Regions from separate parts of the Homo sapiens genome. Here all the other regions are linked to region 3. The links come from fine-mapping of genetic effects on gene expression. A gene starts in region 3. Each other region holds a variant in brackets. All regions are shown on one strand. Distances are from middle to middle.

Region 1 (2,653 bases), 29 kb after region 3:
TGGTGAAGCTGGAGTGGGGTCCCAGGTCCTTCCCAAGACACTGGGCCCCCTGATGCTTCCGAGATCTCCCAGGCCTGGAGGTTGAGATTTCTCTGACATGGAGGGGTGGGATGGTGGAGTAGAGTGTGGGTTGGGGGGTCCCAAGGGAGGGTGTGCTGAGCTGCCCCCACCCTGCCCCCAGGTGCTGAAGGGCTTCCCTGAGTGCCTGCAGGCTGACATCTGCCTGCACCTGAACCGCTCACTGCTGCAGCACTGCAAACCCTTCCGAGGGGCCACCAAGGGCTGCCTTCGGGCCCTGGCCATGAAGTTCAAGACCACACATGCACCGCCAGGGGACACACTGGTGCATGCTGGGGACCTGCTCACCGCCCTGTACTTCATCTCCCGGGGCTCCATCGAGATCCTGCGGGGCGACGTCGTCGTGGCCATCCTGGGTATGGGGTGGGGGGCGGGCACTGGACTGGAAATGCCCTCTGCAGCCTCAAGAGGTGCGAGCCTTCTGAATATGCAGTCACTGGGGCTGTGGACCTGGGACTGCCTGCAGGGTCACTGGGCTCCTTTAATTCACCTAAACTCAGGCCCTCCAAGCGGGGCCATGGAGAGGAGCCCCACGTGGGGTGAGGCTGCTGAACTCTGGGGTTCCCACATTCTCCTTCCCTTCAGGATCCGCCACAAACAGACACTTTTTGCTTCCTTAAAGTAGGATCAAATCTAGATCCTCTAGCCTGGGCAGTAGAGGAAGAAATGCTAGCCTGGAAGCTCGGCATTTGGTTTCACTAAGGGCCATGTGGTTCCCTGCAGCCTCATGCCTGGCCCCTTGACACATCCAAAGCAAAGGGAGTCCTGCCCCCTCCCCCCACTTCCTTTCTACCCTGCCTGTGCACAGTGGGTGGGTTGGTGTGTCTGGACACTGAGGACTTCCTCCCCCTTTGCCTGTCCTTCCCTCGGCCCTGTGTGCCTCAGGGCAGATATAGCAAGCTCTTTCGACCATAGTTGATGGTAGGACATTTTAGACTTTGTTTCTCAGCTCTGTACAAACACAAATACACACCCCCACAAAACTAAAATCAAAGTTTCACTACATAACACTGGGCCTTACTGCATGTGGTTCATTCTAGCATTTCTGTTCTGTGCTGTGCTAAGCTATACTACTGTATGTTCTTTCAGTAAAAAAAAAAAAAAAAAAAAAAAAA[T/AAT]GCTGGTTTTGATTCACTACTGTGTTCTGATCTTTGGTTTGAAGAACATTGCTTATAAGGGTGCAGTGATTGGCTAAGAGGGTGTTTGGGACCTGGGGTTTGGGGTAGTCCTGCTGGCTGGGTCTCATTTGCTGGGAGACCCTGGGCTCCTGGCCCCTCTGGCACTGTCGTGCCTGCTGGGAGCTGAGGGAGGGTGGGCTGGCAGATTGCTTCCCCGGTTGTGTGGGTTGGGGGCCGGCTGGCAGGCGACCCAGCTGAGGGGACATGCTCTGCCCGGGGTGGGGATGCCGGGAGAAGGTGCCTGCTGCCTGGATGCCGCCCCCCGGGGCTGAGCTCCCTGTCCTCTCCATGGCCTCCAGGGAAGAATGACATCTTTGGGGAGCCTCTGAACCTGTATGCAAGGCCTGGCAAGTCGAACGGGGATGTGCGGGCCCTCACCTACTGTGACCTACACAAGATCCATCGGGACGACCTGCTGGAGGTGCTGGACATGTACCCTGAGTTCTCCGACCACTTCTGGTCCAGCCTGGAGATCACCTTCAACCTGCGAGATGTGAGTTGGCTGCCCTGAGCTGGACCCCATCCTCCTGCTTCCAGCTGTGTGGCTGCCCCTTTGCTGTGTGACATTGAATGTGATGCTTCTCTGTCTCAGTTTCCCTGTCTGTCAAATGGTATCATAGAGCAGCCTACAAAAGTCCCAAACTCAGTCTTTGCCTGGGGCAAAATCACATTGGGGGCAGGGAAGGGTTTTCCCAGAGCTGGGGCGCCCAGCCCTACTTTTTCTGTGTTAAGGAGGGAGCTTGGGGCCTGACCCCGGTGGGGCAGGAGAGCACTGAAAGGGCCCTGATACTGATTTTGGTTCCAGACCAACATGATCCCGGGCTCCCCCGGCAGTACGGAGTTAGAGGGTGGCTTCAGTCGGCAACGCAAGCGCAAGTTGTCCTTCCGCAGGCGCACGGACAAGGGTGAGGCGGGGGAGGGGAGGAAGGGGGAGGGCGGGGACAAGGTGAGGCTGGGAGCTGGAAGGCGGGGTGGGCCGTGTCTGCTTTACCCAGGCCTCAGACCTTCCCATCCCTTCCTCCAGTGTGCCCACTCCACACCCCAGCTGTCCAGATGCTGCCCATCTTTCAGGGCCCCTGCAGCTGTCACCTCCTCCAGGAAGCCCTCTTCCACCCTCCAGGGCAAGCCTAGGCTTTTTGGACTTCACAGGGCTGGGGTCTCTGTGAGCACTGAGGAGGAAAGAACATAGAACAAAGGAGGGCCAGGGAGCCAACGATGGGGCTGAGGCCCCGCAGTCCCAGAGATCCGCCAACCCCTGAAGCACCATTGCCAGTGCTTGGGCAGTCAGGGGGTCCTGGGAGTTCTTGGTCGGCTTGACAGTGGGTGCAAGATAGCAGAAGAAGCGACTGGGGACAAACCAGGGCTTCCTGCCCAGTCCTCTCTCGGGCTCGCTCCTGTCC
Region 2 (2,653 bases), 44 kb before region 3:
CAGCTACCACCAGCGGAATGGCTTTGCCTGCATCTTGCTGGAGGATGTCTTCCAGCTGGGGTGAGACGCTTAGCCCGGGCCCGGAACTCGGTCCCCTGGGCCCATGGCTTCCTTCTGTCATTTTGCTTCCTTAATTGTGCCAGCTGCTTCCATCCCATGCTTTCCCGAGCAGCCCAAGGGCTCAGCAGGGGCAGGGTCAGGGAGGATAACCATGGGCTGCTCTGGGGGCTGGGGCAGGAGCCCACCTGGCTGTCCCTGATCACTGCAGCATCCCGGCACCCCCCCTTCCTCCCGGCAGACAATTTATTTTCATTGTCACCTTCACAACCTTCCTCCTTCGATGCGTGGATTACAATGTTCTCTTTGCCAACCAACCAAGTAACCATACCAGACCTGGGCCGTTCCACAGCAAAGTGACCCTGTCAGATGCCATCCTACCCTCAGCCCAGTGTGCTGAGAGGTTAGTGACAACCTGGTGGGGCCCTGGGGGTGAAGCATGGGCAGTGGGTAGAGGAGTAGACGGGAGCCCCACTTTGTCCCGTCATCTAGATCAGCAGTTCTCAAAGCTTTTGGTCTTAGGACCAAAAATACACTTAATATACTTTAAGTTGTACTTAAGTGTATTAAGTTGTACTTAAAGTGTATTAAGTATATCTTTTTTTTTTTTTAAGACAGAGTTTCACTCTTGTTGCTCAGGCTGGAGTGCAATGGTGAGGTCTTGGCTCACTGCAACCTCCACCTCCCAGGTTCAAGCAATTCTCCTGCCTCAGCCTCCCCAGTAGCTGGGATTATAGGCGTGCACCACCACGTGTATTTTTAGTAGAGACAGGGTTTCACCATGTTGGCCAGGCTGGTCTGGAACTCCTGGCCTCAGGTGATCCACCCACTTTGGCCTCCCAAAGTGCTGGGATTACAGGTGTGAGCCACTGTGCCCGGCCTTTTAAGTGTATCTTAATTACAGTGCATTAAGTGTATCTTAATACACTTAAAATTGGTTGAGAATCCTGAAAAGCTTTTGTTTATGGGAGTCGTATCTATCCACATTTTACCTTATAAAAAATTAAAATTAGGCCGGGCATAGTGGTTCACACCTGTAATCCCAGCACTTTGGGAGGCTGAGGCAGGAGGATTGCTTGAAGCCAGAAGTTTGAGATCAGCCTGAGCAACAAAGTGAGACCACATCTCTATAAAAAATAAAAATTAGCTGGGCTTGGTGGTGCGTACCTGCAGTCCTAGCTAAGCCTAGTCAGGAGGCTAAGACAGTGACTGTCTCTGATCACTGCAGCATCCCTACACCCTCCTCCCTCCCAGCAGACGATTCATTTTCATTGTTGCCTTCACAACCTTCCTCCCTGAAGCATGGATTGCAATGTTCTCTTTGCCAACCAACCAAATAACTGTTCCAGACCTGGGCCGTTATTTGGCAGGGAGATAGGAGCTATGTTTCTACTGCTGCACTACAGCCTGGGTAACAGAGAGAGACCTTGTTTCAATAAAAAGGAAAAAAAAAAAAGAAGGAAATTGTAGCTGAGAACAACTTTAAAATGTAAGAGTGC[G/A]GCTGGGCGTGGTGGCTCACACCTGTAATCTCAGCACTTTGGGAGGCCGAGGCGGGCGGATCACAAGGTCAGGAGATCAAAACCATTCTGGCCAACATGGTGAAACCCTGTCTCTACTAAAATATACAAAAATTAGCCAGGTGTGGTGGCGGGCGCCTGTAGTCCCAGCTACCCTGGAGGCTGAGACAGGAGAATCATTTGAACCCGGGAGGTGGAGGTTGCAGTGAGCCAAGATTGCGCCACTGCACTCCAGCCTGGGCGACACAGCAAGACTCCATCTCAAAAAAAAAAAAAAAGAGTGTACAAGCACACATTTCATCAGCTGTCAGTGTGATGTGACATGTTCACGTGTCTTGTAGCCTCTGGAAAACTCCACTGTACTCTCAGAGTACAAGAATGAAAACATCAGAAAGCATTAGTATTATTTGGAAAAAGTTTGACTTTGCACATTTGTGAAGGCCACTTCAGCACCCACCCCCTGCCCCGGGCTCTACCTTGAGAGCTGCTGGTCTAGCTAGATCCCCCTCCTCATGATGGTTTTTCCTCACTCCCGAAGTCTGGTCTGCCTCTTTCTCAGGCGCCCACCTTTCTCCCCCACTGCCCGCCCAACCCCATACAGGATCCGCTCCAGCCCGCTGCTGGTCCTCCTCCTGGTCCTGGCTGCCGGCTTCTGGCTGGTCCAACTGCTTCGCTCAGTCTGCAACCTCTTCAGCTACTGGGACATCCAGGTGTTTTACAGGGAGGCCCTGCACATCCCCCCGGTGAGCTGGGTGGCTGTGTCTGTGCAGAGGGTGCCGTGAGAGGGTGGGCAGAGGAGAGGGGAAGAAGTGGGACTGTACAGGTGGAAGGGCCAACTGGAAAGAGGGCAGAAAGAGCGAGGTCTTATTGACACCTGCCCTAGGCCCAGAATAATGTCAGGAGGGGGCTACCACCACCTAGAGAGCATGGCCCTTACCCTAAGGGAGTTTAGTTTATTTAGATGGCTCATATAAGATGACATATAGTTACATGTTTGTGCTAAAAACATTGATTAGAGAAAAGAGAAAGGGCAGTTATCTGGCTTTTCAGAGCTGGAGGAATTTGGGTTGGGCTTCGGA
Region 3 (2,653 bases):
GGTTCTCGCTGGTGACAAGACCCAGCCCCTGCTCCAAGGACAGAGGCAGCTGCAAGCCCTCAGGAGCCCCCACATGGCCCCATCCATCTAGACAGGTCTCTGATCCGGCTGCAGGGAGGGGACCCTCGGCTGTTCAGCTGCGACTCCTCCCTCCCCGCCCGCCCACTCAGCTGTCAACACTCGCCTCCCCGCCCTGGCCTTCCCGGGGCCCTGCCTGACTGCTAAGTCCGAGGACACCGCGCCCGGAGACCCTCACTCAGACGCAAGCAGGCGATGAGCAGGCGGCGGGGCAGACACCCCGCCTGCCCTTGAGCATCCCTAGGCCTCCTTGCCTAAATAAGGGAGCCGCAGCTGGAGCGAGCCAGCTGGCCGGGGGGAGGGGCCTGCGGCTAGGCCAGGGCTTTCCGAGGGGCTGGGCCGTGGCCGCCGCCGCAGGGCCCCGAGCCCGCCGATTGGGCGTGCAAGGCTGGCCCCGGGCTGCCGGGGGAGGGCGGGCCGCTCGCACCCGGGGATCCCCTGGTTGGAACCTCGCGCTCAGGGACCTCTCTTTGATCCTGCAGCTAGGAGGCCGCAACTGCTGTCAGAATGTCCCTCTCTGTGCAGCTCCTATGCAGAGCCCCACAGAGGGCTCTCTCTCTCTCCGTGTGTGTGTGTGTATGTGTGTGTGTGTGTGTGTGTGTGTGTGTGTGTGTATGTGTGTGTGTGTGTGTGTGTGTGTGTGTGTGTGTGTGTTGGGGCAGGGGGCGTGCCCCTTCTAAGTTTAACCCTCCCTTATTTCAGAGCTCTGCTGCTCTGGGGCCTTCAGATTGTCTTGCTTTTCCTATTTCCAGGGTCTCCCTTGACTCCGGGCTCGTCTTCGAGGGTCCAGGCGTTGCCCCGGTCACCCACAGTAGGCACTGAGCGCGTGCTGTGTATACCAAGCCAGTGCTCGGCGTGGTGGGGAACCAGGGCATAAGGACCCGCCGTTTCCCTTCAAATCAGGTTTCTTAGTCGCTAATCTGGGGTGGGGGTGGAATCCCTTCCCCCATCCCGGCCGCCTACAAGCCGGCCATGGCACCTGTCCTCACGGTTTCCCCTGCCTAAGGGTCCCTTCCCCCTCTTCTGGGCGCGCGAGTCCCAGGGGCTCCTTGGCAGAGCGAGGGGCTGGCGTTGGGGGAGCACTCGGCGCGGCTCAGCCAATGGGAAGGTCGGGCGCGCGCGGTGGGGCGGGATGGGGGGGGGAGAGGGCGGTGCTGCGGGCGCGCGGCAGGCGGGAGGGGGCCGGGAGGCGGGGGCCGGAGCCGGAGGGGCGCGCGCCGCATTAACCCTTCCGCGGCCGGGCCGAGCCGCAGGCGCTGCCCGAGCCGCGGGCGCTGGAGCGGCTGTCGGCGCGGTGGCAGGCGGGAGCCAGGAGTCCGGGGCTCGGGCGGGCGGAGCGCAGCGCGGGGACGCGGCGGAGCGGGCCCCGCGGCTCGGCGGGGGCCGGCAGACAGGTGTGCCGGCGGCGGGCGGCTCGCGCTCAGGCGGCTCCAGGCCGGGCCCGGGGTCCGGAGCGGGGAGCCGGGAGCCGAGCGAGGACCCGGCGCCCGCAGTCCAGTCTTGGCCGCGCCCGTGCTCGGCTTGGCCGCGGGGTGCGGGGACCACGGCCCGGCCGGGCCACCCGAAGCCTAGTGCTGGGCCGGGCCGGGCCGGGGTGGGTGGGGGCCCGCCCGGCCCGCCCATGGGCTCAGGATGCCGGTGCGGAGGGGCCACGTCGCGCCGCAGAACACCTTCCTGGACACCATCATCCGCAAGTTTGAGGGCCAGAGTGAGTGGGGGAGGGGGCTGAGCGGGGAGGGGGCTCTGGGGGCGGGCCGAGCTCTTCCGAGTGTGGATGGGGGGGCGTGCCCGGGCCGTGTGCGTCGGCAAGTGCGAGTCAATGGGGCCTGGTGGGCCCCAGGCTTTGGCGAGGGGACGGCGGGGGCAAGGCTTGGTGCACCGGGGCCGTGGGCACCGGGCCAAAGGGTTTGGGGTTGGGGCTTGGGGCGGGAAACTCAGCTCAGGCTTTTGGGATCGGAGTGTGTGTGACACGCTGAGTGTGCAGGGAAGGGATGTGGGATGGAGTGTGCAGGTGTCCCCAACTCTGGGTGCGTGGACGTGGATGGGGCTGTGTGCAAGGGCATAAGAGTGTGTACGACCCAAACCCTGGGATCCCGAGAGTCCAGCGCGCACACTGGTCTTGCCAGATCTTGACTGTGTTGTGCCGGAGGGACTGAAAAGCCGTGGATGCAGGGTCAGCTCATAATCTCTTCTTGTGTGTGCCGTGTGTATATAACCCTGAGCCCATGTGTCACCCGTGAGTTAGACCCTGTATGGGCGGTGGGGAGGTGTCTTTGACAAGGCTGCGAGCTTGTGGGCTCTGTGGAGACAGGGTGTCCTGGGGCTAGAGCTGGGCTTTGAGGGTAAGCAGCTCCCTGTGGTACCCCCAAGTTGTGGGTTTTCTTGCCCTGGAGACTGTCACCTAATTCCCTTATGGGGACCGGGAGTACAGCACCCCTAATGCCTGCCTGGTAGGGAGGCTTCTAGAAGGGTCCCAGATTAGGCAAATGTCCTGGGGGTGGGCAGCATTCATGTGCCTGTCCCTAAGGCTGCATGAGCCACAGTGGGTGTGACTGCCAAGGGCCCTGGGAGTTGG

Which allele goes with the higher level. Positions count from the first base shown, and alleles are read on the strand shown. Sizes are in standard deviations (SD) of each study's normalised expression.
For the expression in regulatory T cells of the gene that starts at base 1,303 in region 3, T is the low allele of the variant in region 1 and AAT is the other (moderate effect, 0.75 SD a copy in Bossini-Castillo 2019).
With allele G in place of A in region 2, the expression in ovary of the gene that starts at base 1,303 in region 3 is higher (large effect, 1.0 SD a copy in GTEx).

The links. PIP is the estimated chance that this variant, and not a neighbour inherited with it, causes the effect.
Region 1: its variant is the best candidate, but not a certain one, in a credible set for the expression of KCNH2 in regulatory T cells (Bossini-Castillo 2019, PIP 0.61).
Region 2: its variant is the best candidate, but not a certain one, in a credible set for the expression of KCNH2 in ovary (GTEx, PIP 0.56).

What each region holds. Positions count from the first base shown.
Region 1 is chr7:150,947,949-150,950,601 of GRCh38, reverse strand. It overlaps KCNH2 (potassium voltage-gated channel subfamily H member 2), which reads left to right. Exons shown (of 15, transcript NM_000238.4): 9 at 182-434; 10 at 1,553-1,746; 11 at 2,059-2,158. Among named protein-coding and RNA genes, the nearest start is that of KCNH2, 29 kb to the left of the region's middle. RefSeq lists an enhancer at 977-1,717. The variant T/AAT (reference allele first, on the strand shown) is at 1,194.
Region 2 is chr7:151,020,852-151,023,504 of GRCh38, reverse strand. ATG9B (autophagy related 9B) reads left to right here. Exons shown (of 14, transcript NM_001317056.2): 3 at 1-60; 4 at 299-460; 5 at 2,176-2,317. Among named protein-coding and RNA genes, the nearest start is that of ATG9B, 2.3 kb to the left of the region's middle. The variant G/A (reference allele first, on the strand shown) is at 1,557.
Region 3 is chr7:150,976,971-150,979,623 of GRCh38, reverse strand. It overlaps KCNH2 (potassium voltage-gated channel subfamily H member 2), which reads left to right and starts at 1,303. Exons shown (of 15, transcript NM_000238.4): 1 at 1,303-1,786. The coding sequence starts at 1,711. LOC124901776 (a long non-coding RNA gene) reads right to left here. Exons shown (of 3, transcript XR_007060592.1): 3 at 2,269-2,653. RefSeq lists a silencer at 286-635.